Regions from separate parts of the Homo sapiens genome. Here region 2 is linked to region 1. A link means that fine-mapping ties the variant in region 1 to the expression of a gene that starts in the linked region. Tissue or cell type: whole blood. Region 1 holds a variant in brackets; the other region holds the start of a gene. All regions are shown on one strand. Distances are from middle to middle.

Evidence for each region. PIP is the estimated chance that this variant, and not a neighbour inherited with it, causes the effect.
Region 2: AK3 starts here. The variant in region 1 is fine-mapped to the expression of AK3 in whole blood (TOPMed, PIP above 0.99).

What each region holds. Positions count from the first base shown.
Region 1 is chr9:4,707,131-4,715,325 of GRCh38, reverse strand. CDC37L1 (cell division cycle 37 like 1, HSP90 cochaperone) reads right to left here. Exons shown (of 7, transcript NM_017913.4): 7 at 6,927-8,195. It overlaps AK3 (adenylate kinase 3), which reads left to right. Exons shown (of 5, transcript NM_016282.4): 5 at 2,230-5,770. The coding sequence ends at 2,350. Among named protein-coding and RNA genes, the nearest start is that of AK3, 30 kb to the left of the region's middle. The variant ATTT/T (reference allele first, on the strand shown) is at 4,570.
Region 2 is chr9:4,736,980-4,745,146 of GRCh38, reverse strand. AK3 (adenylate kinase 3) reads left to right here and starts at 3,945. Exons shown (of 5, transcript NM_016282.4): 1 at 3,945-4,210. The coding sequence starts at 4,060. RefSeq lists silencers at 3,556-4,045, 4,276-4,415.

The sequences.
Region 1 (8,195 bases):
TATTTTAGAAGTCTTTCTAGGCTCCTTCTGGCTTTTGCTGCCTTTTGCTGTTAATTCAAGCTTTTCTTTTCTTTTTCTTTCCTTCTTTCTTTTTTTTTTTTTTTTTTTTGAGACGGAGTCTCACTCTCTCTCAGGTTGGAGTGCAGTGGTGCCATCCCAGCTCACTGCAGCCTCCTCATCCCAGGTTCAAGCGATTCTTATGCCTCAGCCTCCCCAGTAGCTAGGACTACAGGCACGTGCCACCATGTCCTGCTAATTTTTGTATTTTTAGTAGAGACGGGGTTTCGCCATGTTGGCCAGGCTGGTCTTGAACTCCTGACCTCAAGTGATCCACCCTCCTTGGCCTCCCAAAGTGCTGGGATTACAGACTTGAGCCACCACACCCGGCCGAATTCAGTCTTTTCATTCTCAGCTCCCACACGTAGAACTCAGCGAGACTTGACTAAAAACTGAAAGTTTATTTGCAAGAATGTTAGTAATAGTCAGCATTGTTATTTAGAAATGCTGACAGTTGTATTGTTGGTTGTTTTAAAAAAAACCTTTTAGCTGTGGGACATTATAGAGTAACTGGTCTATGTTTACAAACAACATGATGCCCTTACTCTTTGGAGGACCAATTGTTGAAGCTGGTTCCATTTTATTACACAGAAATTAAAATGACAAATGTTCACCCACGATTTAGGATCGAATAGGTGCCTGCAATTGTGCCCTCAGTAATTAACCCACTTGTGACACTGGCTTGATTTTTAAATCGGCTCTTCAAGAGGCTTACAACAGTTAAGAAGCTTGTTCCCTTGAAAGCAGTACCAGGTGCCAGTGAATTTAGAAGCAGGAGGGTTTCTAATATCCCAAGAATGCTGTATTTGCATAATTTCCTTCCTTAGCAGATGTTTCTTACCGAGAAAACAGTGGGTGTTATTTAAGTTAACTGTGGCAAATTTTATGAGGTATCAAGGGAAGAATGCTTTTGTCCTTAGTGAAAGCCCTGAAAACCTCGGAAGAAGGGCCACACAGGTATAAGGAATCCTCTTTTCACAAAGTCATAAACCAGAGTTCTTAGGTTGTCCTTATGCAGTCTTTACACCAGTGTGTATGTGTGGAGGCGAATGTGTGGAGGTGTATATGTGGAGGTGTGTGTATGTGGAGGCGTATGTGTGGAGGTGTGTGTATGTGGAGGTGTGTATATGTGTAGGTGTGTATATGTGGAGGTGTGTATATGTGTAGGTGTGTATATGTGTAGGTGTGTATATGTGTAGGTGTGTATATGTGTAGGTGTATATGTGTAGATGTATATGTGTAGCTGTATATGTGTAGGTGTATATGTGTAGGCGTATATGTGTAGGTGTGTAAATGTGGAGGTGTGTATATGTGTAGGCGTGTATATGTGGAGGTGTGTATATGTGGAGGTGTATATGTGTAGGCGTAGGTGTACGCATGGGCTAGAGGACGGGTATTAGCAAGAGGAAGGCCAGAATCTTTGGAGGGAATCTGTGTGGCTTGAAAAGCACCCCCAGGATTCTGATCTCACTCTTCACCATGTTATCCACAGGAAACTGGAGTAAATAAAATAGACTTTGGCTGCTGGTCTAGTGACAAGCTAGACAAATCTGCCTGGGAAGAAATGAAGACAGTCAATAGGAAACCCAATAAAACCAACACTTTTTATTCCCCTTTCTGTTAATATTCAGAAGAGTGGAATAGAGGAGAACATAAATGTTGGCCTGGGCAAAAAGGAAAGATACTCAAGTATTAGAAAGTAGCTTTTGCAAAAGAGTAAGTAGAAAAAAAAGGCTGATGGGTGTTCTGGTATCTTATAGGTCCTGTTTGGAAATGTACTACCAACTTGGTGATTTGGGCTAAGTTACATTACAAAGGGATGATTTTATTAGTAAAATAAGAAAATTTGAGCTTTGGAAAGGATTAAACAAACTATAATATGTAAAGCATGTAGCACAGCCTTTGACACACAGTGCATGTTCAATAAATAAAATAAATGATAGGTGCTGTTATTTTTTTAAGCACCCATTTTTGTAAGCCAGAGAGCACAACTGAAACCAAAATGTACATTTTCCAATGCCCAGCCAAGTGCCTTTCTCTCCTGATTACACAAATCTATACTTACCAAGACTCCTATATCTACAATATCATTATTTACAGAAAGGCTTTGAAAGAGCTTATTAGGAAGACTCAGACCTGTGTGTGTTTGTTTTGTTTTTGTTTCATCTTTAGGAAAAAAGGGGTGCTGGAAACATTCTCCGGAACAGAAACCAACAAGATTTGGCCCTATGTATATGCTTTCCTACAAACTAAAGTTCCACAAAGAAGCCAGAAAGCTTCAGTTACTCCATGAGGAGAAATGTGTGTAACTATTAATAGTAAGATGGGCAAACCTCCTAGTCCTTGCATTTAGAAGCTGCTTTTCCTAAGACTTCTAGTATGTATGAATTCTTTGAAAATTATATTACTTTTATTTCTACTGATTTTATTTTGGATACTAAGGATGTGCCAAATGATTCGGATACTAAGATGCATCGTTTGAAATCATCTAGTGTGTTGTATGCAGTTATCCTCAAAAACATCAGCGATGTCTGAACCTTTAAAACATCTGTTAGAGCAAAATTAAAAGAGCATTTGGTAGTAATCTAACTTTTTGTTCAGTTAATAAGTGGTTGATAAAGTTTCCATATTTTTCTGGAAAAGTTAAAAAAAGTTACATGTCATTTGGAGAAAATACGTAATCAGAAATTTGTGCATAGATTGATGCCAAAAAAGACATTTCCAGCATTGTGGAACATGGTGAGACACTATATAAAATTCCAGAAAGAAAGCAACTGGATTTACAGATTTATTGTGAGACACAAATTCACTGCTGCCTTTACACTAAGAAATGTATATGTTAACCATATATGCTGTATTTATTTTGTCGTTAAGCATACTTTCAGTTTACTCAGAATTTTCAATTTGCTATAAAGATGTATCAATTAGCATATAGAAAAATATTACTTTAAGATGACTTGTTTCCTTTGAAAATACCTGTGTACTGAGGGTTATGATTTGTGTCAAAAATTGACATAAGTGCTTTTACAAGCACCAAAGTTGAATGAATTTTCAACAAAATGTAATTAAAGTCTATGTTTTCAGTTATGACTCAGGTTAAGAAATGTGTTTTAGGATCTACTTGCTGGTTTTTCTTTTTGATCCAAATGTGTGATCTGCCCTGATAAATAACAAGTTATAGTACCATCTCCCCCGCCAATAAAAAAGAGAAGAAAAAAGAGAAACCCGTGGCACTATGTAAATAAAGTAAGCATACTTTGTTGTTAGTAAATAGATGAGGCATGCCTGGGAAATGCTCCCTTGGCATAAATAGCAATCAATCATAATTAGTAAACAGGTGTACCAATAAAAAGAATTTACATGATAGGTTAACAAGGACCAGGAAAGTGAGTTTCCTGAAGGAGTTCTTTGTTCCTGATCAAAGAAATTGATACCTGTTAGCATTCACTGCCACCATATTTTAAGGAGAAAGAACTCTATTGGTGTCGTCTGAGCAGCCATTTAAAAATTGGAATCTAAAGGATGGTTGCTGATGTACTGTGTGGTCTGGTAGAAGTGGGGAAATATGAGAGATGGAGGAAAAACTTGATTATGTCTTCCATGGCATATTTACTCTTACTTTACTTCGTGCCAAATCAAATGAAACAAGCCGTCTTACAAGTCGTTATTGCCTTTAAAAATCTGTTCCGTTTTTTTCCCAGGTACTTAAAATACAAGTGCCAGTAAGTGGTTCTTATGTGTTTTGGGGGGAAAATTTTATTTCCCTTTTCTTCTGATATTTAAAAAATTCATCGATCTTTCAAGATGAACCAAGGTTTTTTAAAAGAAATATAGGAAACACTTCATTCTTTATAAAACTTTCTATAATGCCTTATTTGAATGTTAATCTTATGTGCTTTCTAAAAAATGTTGTGAAATACCAAACTTATGGATTATCACTAGGTTATCAAGCATATATTAGTCTTTATCAGAATAAAATGAAATTTCATAACTGTGGCTATTACTTTGTTCTTGGTCCTTCACAGGGCCTGCTCCATCCCACCTTCCTTTCTGCTGCCTGATGTCTCAATGGCTTCTGAATGACTGTTCTAATAAATGATCTTAAAACAGTCCATAGGCTGGTTTCAGTTTATGCAATACTTCATCTCCTGCTATGGTAGCCATACCGGCCTTCATAATACCCTTAGGGGATTTGGAAATCAAAGTGAGCAGTGGAAGAACATGGCTATGAGAATTAAGACTCTTATTTCCTGTGACCATTCCCTCCCCACCCGCAAACACTTAGCCCAAAGTTTTGCACATACATTCATTACTTTAGGAATGAATATGACTGTAATACAACTTTTTTCTTTATTTTTTTTTAGACAGGGCCTCACTCTGTTGCCCAGACTAGAGTGCAGTGGCATAATTGGGTCACTGTAACGTTGAACTCCTGGGCTCACGCAATTCTTCTACCTCAGCCTCCCAAGTAGCTGAAACTACAGGTATGTACCACCATGCCTGGCTAATTTT[ATTT/T]TTTTGTAGAGACGGCGTCTCGATATGTTGCCCAGGCTAGTCTCCTGGCCTCAAACAGTCTTCCTGATTCAGCTTCCCAAGTGCTGAGATTACAGGTGTAAGCCACTGCCCCCACCCAAAAAAATAATTCTGTAATGACCATCATTAAGATTTATGTACCACATGGAAATACATGTATGGAGCTGAATGCCATGGCTAGGAGAAACTACTATACTTTTGTTAAAAGCCAATGAGAGGCCGGGCGCGGTGGCTCACGCCTGTAATCCCAGCACTTTGGGAGGCCGAGGCGGGCGGATCACGAGGTCAGGAGATCGAGACCATCCTGGCTAACACGGTGAAACCCCGTCTCTACTAAAAATACAAAAAAAAAAAAAAAAAATTAGCCGGGCATGGTGGCGGGCGCCTGTAGTCCCAGCTACTCGGGAGGTTGAGGCAGGAGAATGGTGTGAATCCGGGAGGCGGAGGTTGCAGTGAGCTGAGATCGTGCCACTGCACTCCAGCCTGGGCGACAGAGGGAGACTCCGTCTCAAAAAAAAAAGCCAGGGAGAACAGCACCTCAACTGATTTATTTTATAGAGTAAAAGTTATTTTGCTATACCTTTTGTAAGCAGCGTGTACTGTGGGAAATGCAAACTAGCAGTTGTTAGCACCATCCAGAAATTTCTGTCAGTTCCATTTCAAATAGTTTAAATACTGGCTCAAATCTCTAAACCCCACCCTATGGCTACTTTTCCCCCAGCTATATATAATGGCATTCTAGCAAGATATTTTGGATCCTCATAACTTGTGACAAAACTGCCCTATACTAACAACAAATCATTGTAATTATAGATCTCAAATTATGTTAAATTGCTATAGTTGCAACCAACAGCAAGAATTTGTATTTTAGAATATGTTGTGTCTTCTCATTGACCAAAAAATAAAAATAAAAATAAAAATAAATCCTCAGGCCCTGATAAACTGTAGAAATAGCTTTTCTATCTTTGCAGTTAAAGATTTTCATCTTGGAAGTTATGGTTAAAAAATTTTTAAACAGTTAAAATAGTGTAGCTGTGCTTAAAGCTTCTGGTAAAAGCCAGTATGCTTTGTAGAGCCCTTATCCCCCTCCTGCTTTTTATTTGTTTTTAGCTCACTAAATAATATAAACACTGATTTTTCCATATATAGCACTGAATAAACTGTCATGCCTAAGTGTAAATCAGTCCAGCACTGTGTCATCTTTTTCTAAAGCATTCCAAGTTAAATGTCTGATGTGTAAATAACATGAAGAATCATGCTGTTAACTGTGTGAAAGATGTGGGAATTTTAATAATCATTTTCTATATTTAGAGATCAAACAAGTCTAATTCTTCAAAGCTTATGAGAATGGTTTCACTTCATATTAGATGGTGAACAATCCATAATGAACTTATATTCACCCTGTGTCCCCCTCCCGACCCCCTTGGCTCACATAGTGAGCAAATAATTTTCAGATAAATCAACTTCTCAGAACTATGCAATTGTATATACATGTCCATTACAGATGAGAGATGGATGGATTTAAGGGTTTTGTTAAAAGTATGTTTGCTATAATGGCAAAATTGAAATGGAAAGCCCATGAAATGGAAAGCCCAACCTCAACCCAGACAAGTACCTCGGTTCTGTCCCACACCAATTTAAGAACTGAAATACATGATTGACTTAGAAAAGTAAACTGACATTTCGTTCTCCTCTGAAAATACCCAAAGGTTAACTTCAGGATCACCTTGCCTAAACCTACAGTCAACTTTTTTCATCCTGTTAGAAAATCCACTTACTAAAACAGATTCATGTTCTTTGGGCAGCATGTTCATTTTCATTTTTAGATGTTGCCAGGCTGGAGTGCAGTGGCGCCATCTTGGCTCACTGCAACCTCTGCCTCCCGGGGTTCAAGCGATTCTCCTGCCTCAGCCTCCTGAGTAACTGGGACTACAGCCACGCGCCACCATGCCCAGCTAATTTTTGTATTTTGGGTAGAGACAGGGTTTCACCATGTTGGCCAGGATGGTCTCGATCTCCTGACCTCAGGATCCACCCGCCTCGGCCTCCCAAAGTGCCGGGATTACAGGCGTAAGCTACTGCGCCCGGCTGTTCATTCATTTTTAAAAGGGTAATAATATGATATGCCAGTCTGAAAGAAGAGGAGGACCTGATTTTCCTAAAGAGAAGTTATAAGAGATTGTGAGCTCATTAGGCAAAATTTGAAAGAGCTCACTAATGGTATAATTGGAAGAGAATGTTACCCATCTACCTAAGAGTAATAATTTTAAGGCAGTATTATCTTCACTACCACTGAAAAAATGACACTGAGTTAACAGAGAATAAATGGACAGCTATTTGATTTAAAAATTTTTTTATTCAAATATTAATTTTATCAAATGAAACAAGAATCTTTGATGATACTTTGATGTAAAAAAATGTTTCATTCATGTGTTTGCACTTTCCATGGTTTAATTTGTTTAGGGTAAATTGTCCAACCTGAAATATAAATTATCCCTTTGCTTAATATACTCTTTATTTCTTCAGAAACAAAAAAAAGGTAGGAATTAGTTCAAGGATGTCAATTTACTGTTTCTAGTACTAAAGTACGGCTAACTATGTAATTTATAGCCTTTAAGTGCAAATTATGGCATCAGTCAGTGGTTCCCACAACAGACCCAATCACACTTTCATACTCAAAACACAGTATATTCTTTTGCAAGTAAAAATATATAAATCAAGTTTCAAAGAACATCTTTTCAGTGCCCCTCAAGAATAGTTTACTCAGTTTGTTGATACTTTCTCTCCTGCCAGTCTTCAGTCATTAAATACCTCTAACTTAGAGAAGGCAAAATGAAATTCAAAACAATTTGAATGCTTACAGGCAAATCCTGGGAAAGAAGGGAAAATAATAATTCAAGTAACATTTCTGTGAAACTAGGAATATGGCTCCTGTGTCTGCCCATTCTCTCAATTTGGTAGAAAGGGAAAAATAAGAGCTTGCTTCAGAACAGAACAAAAAGAAAAAAATGTCTACGACTAGGTCATGGGTTTAAAAAAAAAAAAAGTACAGGCTGACAAACACTACTATATAAATTAGTCAAACATTTTATTATAGAGTATATATTTATATCAAAAGCACAAAAACGTTTATTCTGAAAACCAGGAAGATTGTGATGTTACAGAAGAAGATTCAATAATTCCAGTCCATTTCTAGGGTACTAAGTGTCTGATCACCTCAGCGAAAACAAGATACAAATGAGGCCAAGGTCACAGGTCTGGCCACCCTGAGTCCCTTCGCACTATTTGGTTTCTCAAGTTGAGACACGTATTCCCAGTCCCAGTTAGCCACCTTCCAAGTGTTTGCTACTAGCCTTAATGGGTACTTAGCCAAAGACTACACCCAAATATAACCAAAGCTTATGTTAAGTCATAAGATTAATCCTTCAATAATAAGGATAGCATAATTGGCTTTGTTACCTAATTCTACATAAACAAAATCATCAAATATCCTGGCATAACTGAAATGACTTACAGAGGAAGTAGTAAAGCTTGGAAGTATTCTATGGTAACTGAGCTGAAAAAGGGGAAATGCCAAATGTTGTAAATGCCATCATTACCAATAA
Region 2 (8,167 bases), 30 kb before region 1:
AATCCTCCCACCTCAGCTTCCCAAATAGTTGGGACCACAGGTGCACACCACCACACTGGCTAATGTTCTTCTTCTTCTTCTTTTTTTTTTTTTTTTTTGTAGAGGAGGGGGTGTCATTATGTTGCCTAGGCTGGTCTCAAACTCCTGGACTCTAGTGATCCTCCCGTCTTGGCCTCCCAAAGTGCTGGGATTACAGGTGTGAGCCACCACACCTGGCCTGGAGTGGATTTTTATAGTAGTGGATAACTGATGTACCTTCCTTCTCTTTGTCTTACTACAATCACTACAATCCTAGTAATTATTTCTCAAACATGAACCCTCCTATTCTTTTGTTCTCACCTAGGTAACACATAGTGTGAAGCAACATACAAACACATATACATGTTTCTTGGAAACAAGCTGTATTAGTTCCCTAGAGCTACAGTAACAAATTACCACAAACTAGGGGGCTTGAAACAATAGAAAGTTATTCTCTCACAGTTCTAGTGACTACAATTCATAGCCAAGGTAAGGGCAGGGTTATTCTCTCCCAAGGATCCTAGGGGAGAATCAGCTTTGTGTCTTTCTCTTGGCTTCTAGTGTCCCTAGCAATCTTTGGTGTTCCTCGGCTTGTAGCTGTATAAGCCCAATATCTGCTTCCATCGTCACATGGCATTCTCCTGCTATGTTTTCAGGTCATATTGGATTAAGAGCTGACCATCTTCCACTATGACCTGATCTTAACTACTTATGTCTGCAAAGACCCTATGTGTAAGTAAGGTCATCTTCTGAGGTACTGGGGATTAGGACTTCAATATATCTCCTGGGGGAATACAATTCAACCCATGACACATGCCTATCATTTCCCCCTCAGTTGTACATTGTAGAGTTGTACATTGAAGACTTAAACATTTCAGTCTTCAAATGTGACAAAGGCCGGGCATGGTGGCTCATGCCTGTAATCCCAGAACTTTGGCAGGCCAAAGCAGGAGGATCATTTGAGGTCAGGAGTTCAAGACCAGCCTGGCCAAAATGGCAAAACCGCTACTAAAAATACAAAAATTAGCGGGGCATGGTGGTGCAGGCCTGTAGTCCCAGTTACTTGGGAGGCTGAAGCAAGAGAATCTCTTGAATCCAGGAGGCAGAGGTTGCAGTGAGCCAATATCTCGCCACTGCACCAGCCTGGGTGACAGAGAGACTCCGTCTCAAAAACAAACAAACAAAAGTGACAAAACAGTAATTCTTAGTATTTAATCAACAAAACCCTACTGAGTGCCTACTATGTGCAAAGCACTCATCTGGGCTTTATTTGCTTCAAACTAATCTGTATAAACACTTGGTCATTAAATTAGAATTTGAATGAATTTGACCTCAGTGTTTTTCAGTTGGAACAAGGTAGGCAGTGAGGAACAGATCCATACAAAGGCCTGTGAATGGCGAAAAGACTATGCCAGGCACAGTTGCCAGGAGATTTCACAGACTGGCAGTTACTCATTTGTAATCAACAACCTTTTGCAAAGCCAAAGTTGATTGGTGTTTTGCGGGCCTGTTAATATGACCACGACACTCAGCTTTTCATCCCCGCAATGACAGGATGATTCCTCAGCTATTTTTGTTTGTTTGAACATTTTTTTTTTCTAAACCAAATTTCCCCAGGATTTTCTTTCTGGTTTCTTTTGGAGCTGAAACCTCCTATGTTCCCAGCTTTGGAGATTAGAAGTACTTTCTCCACACCTTCAGATTTTCTAGTATTGCATAAGTTGTACTTGTCCAGACTTGCTCATTCTTTAGTTAGTTCTGTTCAAGTTTTCTCATCCTTTCATTTATGTTGTTTACTTCATCCCTTCCTCTGCTTTCCATGGGTTATTTTGATGTCCTTTTCCCAATTACATGAATTCAATGTTTAATTCATTTATTTTCATTCTTTTCATTCTTTCTTGCTTAGTAATGAGTATGTATGAGCCCTGCTGGGCACAGTGGGGTGGCTCAAGCCTGTAATCCCAGCACTTGGAGAGGTCAAGGCGGGCAGATCATTTGAGGTCAGGAGTTTGAGATCAGCCTGGCCAACATGGTGAAATCCCATCTCTACGAAAAATATAAAAATCAGCTGGGCGTGGTGGCGGGTGCCTGTAATTCCAGCTACTCGGGAAGCTGAGGTATAAGAATCACCTGAACCTGGGAAGTAGAGGTTGCAGTGAGCTGAGATCGCATCACAGCACTCCAGCCTGGGCAACAAAACAAGACCCCGTCTCAAAGAAACAAAACGAGGCCGGGCGCGGTGGCTCACATCTGTAATCCCAGCACTTTGGAAGGCCAAGGCGGGTGGATCACCTGACGTCGGGAGTTTCAGACCAGTCTAAGCAACATGAAGGAACCCTGTCTCTGCTAAAAATATAAAATTAGCCGGGTGCGGTAGCGTGTGCCTGTAATCCCAGCTACTCGGGAGGCTGAGGCAGGAGAATCACTTGAACCCGGGAGGCAGAGGTTGCCGTGAGCCGATTGCACTCCAGCCTGGGCAACAAGAGCAAAACTCTGTCTCAAAGAAAAAAAAATGTACAAGGTATGTATTTTCTTTCTTTCTTTTCCACACCAGAAAGTATAAAGGCTAATGCCTTTTCTAAGTACCAGGCTGTCTACCTATTGAAATCCCCCATCCATTCACTCAGCTACGATTCACTGACTGTCTCACCCTGAAGTCATTTCTATCTTCTTTGAAATCAGTTCTGGACCTCTGAGGAGAATGGTAACTGTGTTTTATTTTCAGAGAGCCTTCTTTCTGCCTTAGCATAGTGTCCGGGACAAAGCAATGATGATAAATGGACAACCATTATTGAACATTGACCCCGTAGCTGGCATTGCACTAAGTACTACATTATTTTAACTCCTCCATTCTACTCCTCTATGCCCATTTTACAGGCAAAATGATACTCACTCGAACGTTTTTGTCCTCTGTTTCCATTCTTGAAACATGCCAAACCTCCAGTTTTAGGGCCTTTTCCTAAAACTGGACATAGGAAGGGCCCATGTCTCTCTCTTCCATATTCTAATTAAGCACTCAGCACACATGCCATCTCTTCAAAGCTTTTCCGACCGCCTATCTACAACAGCCTGCCTCCACAGTTTCACACACTCTTTTACGTTATTTATAAAAGAGTCTCACTCAATGGAAGCTGGATTTCCTCTCCTGTAAAATGAGGTAGGCCCTCTCGGCTCAAGGTCACTCCCTGTGATTCTACACAGAGAGGGAGTGGGAAGAGAGGGCGCTCGGCAGCAGAGGAGGAGGAGGAAGGAGGGAAGGGCGAAGGCGGGAGTGGGTGCAGAAGCGGGGGGTCTGGCGGTCCAGGGGGGTAGAAGGGAGGGGCGGATTCGAGTGGGCGCCAGGTGGAGGTGGGGCCAGGGTTGTCAAGGGAGCACGAAAGGGGTCGCGGTGTGTCCGGCAAGGACTGGGTAGGGCAGCGCCTGCTATGGACTAGGGGCGAGGGCTACGAAAGGGTTGTTGGAGGGGTGGATGCGGGTGGATCCCGAAACCAAGCGGCTCCGAGGGGCGACTAGAGGTGGGGAGGGGGCGCGCAGGAGTTGCCAAGGTCGGACAGAGGGGAGCGCGGTCTATCCGGCTGGGAATGGGCCGGACAGGGCGCGGGGTTCCGGGGTCGCGGAGAGGCGCGGAGGTAGATCTGAGCCGAGTGGAGGGCGCGTGGGGGTGGGTGCAGAGGGGCGCCGAAGGGATCCGGGCCCAGCGGCCGGTGGAGAGGGGCCGCGGAGAGGCGCAGGTGGGAGCTGGGCGGCCGAGCGAGCGCAGAGGGGGCGCGGCTTGCGCGGCTTGCGCGGCTGGGCGGGAACAGGCGCTCGGTCGGGGGCGGGGGGTGCGCCGGGGTAGCCGAGAGGCGGACGCAACAGCGGGGTCCCGCGCTGTCTGGGCGGCCCCAGGGGCTGTCGGCTCACTTCCGGGAACGCCGGGGAACCGCAGTAGCCGCCTGCTAGTGGCGCTGCTAGCCGGCCGGCGCAGGCTGCCGAGCGGGTGAGCGCGCAGGCCAGGCCAAAGCCCTGGTACCCGCGCGGTGCGGGCCTCAGTCTGCGGCCATGGGGGCGTCCGCGCGGCTGCTGCGAGCGGTGATCATGGGGGCCCCGGGCTCGGGCAAGGGCACCGTGTCGTCGCGCATCACTACACACTTCGAGCTGAAGCACCTCTCCAGCGGGGACCTGCTCCGGGACAACATGCTGCGGGGCACAGGTGGGAGCTCTGGGCCCAGGGCCGGCCGTGCGCTGTCACCCGGGTCGGACTTCGCGGGCGAGGGGCCGAAGCTGGGCACGCGGGTCCCTGGCTGCGGGCGCGGCATTTCCCTCCCGCCGCCCGGGACAGAGACCTCGGGCTGCTGAGCGACTGCGCCCCAAAACCTCCGGCCTCCGTGGGCCGCTTCGGGCGGGTTATGGGGTGGCGGTGGGGGAAGGGACTGGAAAGTTAGGTCGAGCTCGAAGTTCAGAGATGAAAGGAAACCACCGGGCTTTGTTTCAGAGGCCCAAGTCCTCCCAGTGGCAGCCACTCTTGGGGGTCCATCGAGCTGAGCCGCAGCTTGTTCAACGTGCTGGTGCCTTTGGAAGACTGTCATTAGCCCTGCTAGAGTCTGCTCGTTCTGTTTTGTTTTCTTTGTTTCTTTCTTTTCTCTTTCTTTTTTGGTGTGGTTAAGCTCTATGAGATCTTGTAGTTCTGACCTTTCCCCCATATTCCCAAGGCCAAGTATTATTTACCCTTGTTGCAGTCATAAAATTATCTCATTTTGATATCCTTAGATTTCGTAGACACGAAGGCTATTCTTGTGCATGGTTCTATAAAATATTTTGTTTCTCATGCCAAATAAATTCTTACAGCTCGGCACGAAAGGCAGTTAACAATCTACACTATACAATGGGTGAATTTGTGGTATGTAAATTCTCTCTTAAGAGGGTTGTTTTTGAAAAGCCAATCGCAGGAGTTTTTTTCTCAAAAAATGTTGACCTTACTTTTCAAAATAGAACCCGTTTTGAAACTCATTTTGAAACCCATTTACATAGAAATAATGCTTCCACAAGGCCTTTTTCTTTTGTTTTCCTTCTTTTTTTTTTTTTTTTTGTAAGGATAGCAAACAGGATAGACGTGCATAGCATAAAAAACAACGCCCTCTTTCGTTCCCTACCTCAGTCCCATTCTTCGGAGGGGAACAGAGTTTTCCTTCTAGAAAGGTTTACTTTTTAAGCGCAGATACGTGTACCTTTTTTCTTTTTTTCTTTTTGGTTTGTTTGTTTTTTGAGACGGAGTCTTGCTCTGTCTGCCTCCTGGGTTCAAGCAATTCTCCTGTCTCAGCCTCCCTAGTAGCTGGGACTACAGGCGCATGCCACCACGCCGGGCTAATTTTTTGTATTTTTAGTAGCGATGGGGTTTCACTGTGTTAGCCAGGCTGGTCCCCATCTCCTGACCTCGTGATCCACCCGGCTCGGCCTTCCAAAGTGCTCGGATTACAGGCGTGAGCCACCGCGCCCGGCCAACGTGTATCTTTTCTTGTATGTAATATGTGAGCATACTATGTGTATATACTCTGCACTAGTGTGGTTTCACTTTGTGTCTGGGATATATTTCACATGAAAACGGACAAATCCATTTCATTCTGTTTTTGTAGTATGTATTTTCTGAATCTAGTATGATTTATTTAACCAGTTCACACTTGTAATCCCAGCACTTTGTGAGGTCAAGGCGGGCGGATCACTTGACCTTAGCAGTTCTAGACCAGCCTGGGCTACTTGGTGAAACTGCGTCTCTATAAAAAATTCAAAAACAATTAGCGAGGCGCAGTGGCAGGCACCTGTGATCCTAGCTACTCGGGAGGCTGAGGAGAGAGAATCGCTTGAACCTGGGAGGCGGAGGTTGCTGTGAGTCGAGATTGCAACGCTGCACTCCAGCCTGAGCAAGACCCCATCTCGAAAAAAAAGAAAGAAAGAACAGAGATTGTTTGACTTGCTTGCTAAATGTTGTTAATGCGACATACTGAAGTAGTTAGGTAACATTAAACAGTCCCAGATACTGCTACTGGTTGGGGTCAGGTTAACCAAAGTCTAGGAGAGTAGGCCTGGCGCAATGGCTCATGCTTGTAATCCCAGCACTTTGGGGGCTGAGTCGGGCAGGTCACTTGAGGTCAGGAATTCAAGACCAGCCTAGGCAACATGACGAAACCCCCGTCTCTACCAAAAATACAAAAAATTAGCTGGGCATGGTGGCTCGCGCCTGTGGTCCCAGCTTCTCTGGAGGCTGAGGTGGGAGTATCACTTGAGCCCGGGATGCAGAGGTTGTCATGAGCCGAGATTGTGCTACTACACTCCAAGCTGGGTGACAGACAGAGTGATACCCTGTCTCAAAAAAAAAAAAAAAAAAAAAAAAGTAAAGCATATTTATTATAAAAGAAGGAAACTATATCTATTTCATGCAAATGTAAAAAAGGTAAATTAAGATCCCTCATAATTCTGCCTTGCCACACAGAGATGATTATAATTAACTCTTGGGTGCATTTTCTTTTATTCTTTTTTTTTCTTTTTCTTTTTTATTTCTGTTGCATTTGTATTTGCAAAATGGTTGTATTCTAAAATTGTCATATTCTAAATGATAGGTTACTTTTTTATTCTCATTTATAGTGAGCATGTTCACACATCATTAAGCAGTCTTAAAAATGATGTTTAAGCTGGGCGGGGTGTCTCACGCCTGTAATCCTAGCACTTTGGGAGGCTGAGGTGGGTGAATCACCAGAGGTCAGGAGTTCAAGACCAGCCTGGCCAACATGGCAAAACCCTGTCTCTACTAAAAATACAAAAATTAGCCAGGCATGGTGGTGGGCGCTTGTAATCCTAGCTACTTGGGAGGCTGAGGCAGGAGAATCACTTGAAACTGGGAGGCGGAGGTTGCAGCGAGCCGAGATGGCGCCATTGCATTCCAGCCTAGGTGAAAAGAGCGGAACTCTGTCTCAAAAAAAAAGATGTTTAATTTTATCAAAGTTGTATAGTTATTAAACATTTTTATTGGACGCGTATGTTGTTAACTATTGTTTGTTGTAATAAATACTGTTATGACTATCCCTGCACATAAACATTTGGCAAATCTTTGCTTATTTCCTTCAAATAAATTCCTAGTATGGAATTTCTACAAATATGGTACTATCAAATAATACAACAGAAGGATTGTGCCAATTTAGTTTCCAGTCATTGTTTCATGAGGGTGCTATATTTTATAACCCATGGCTGTATTTTATAGCTAAGGTTTAAAATCATCACAGGAGATATGATAAGGACACTGGAAACTTTAGGCAACTCATTGACAGTAGCAAAGCTGGAATAACTGTAGGTCATCACTGAAACTTGGAGTCAGGGAACTTGAATCTGACCTTAAGACATTTAGTCCAGTCCTCTCTTTTATTGTATTTTATTTTTTTGAGACAGAGTCCCCACTCTGTCGCCCAGGCTGGAGTGCAGTGGCACGATCTCGGCTTACTGCGACCTCCGACTCCTGGGTTCAAGCGATTCTCCTGCTTCAGCTTCCGAACTCAGGTAGCTGGGACTACAGGCTTGCACCACCGTGGCTGGCTAATTTATTTTCAGTAGAGATGGTTTTGCCGTATTGGCAGGCTGGTCTCGAACTCCTGACCTCAGGTGATCCAACCGCCTTGGCCTCTCAGAGTCAGACCTCTCTTTTAGAGATGAGGAGACTGAGTTCAGGAGAACTTGCTTGATAGTAAACAGTATTTATTGGGGGATTAGGGTGAAAACATAGATTTCTCCATGTTAAATACTCTTTTCTCTATGCAGTATTTCCCACATTGAGATTCATGAGATAGACATGAATTAGACGATGAGATTCATGAGATAGACATTTTAGATAGACAAAAACTTTTTATTTATTTTAAAGCAGAATTGAAACAGACATAAATCTAGCACATGAAAGCTGTATTTCATGAAAATTATAGCTATTAATTTTTAAAGCTAAGTCACTTTAAAGAAAACTATATAGTAAAGAACTATATAGTAAAGAAAAACTATATAGTAAAGAACTATATAGTAAAAAAAACTATATAGTGAATAATAGTTCAACTATGGTAGAAATCGTGAGGTTGAAGTGTGATTGCTTAGTCTGAGAAAGCTGCACTGTAGCATAGTGCGTCTCAGAGACATAACC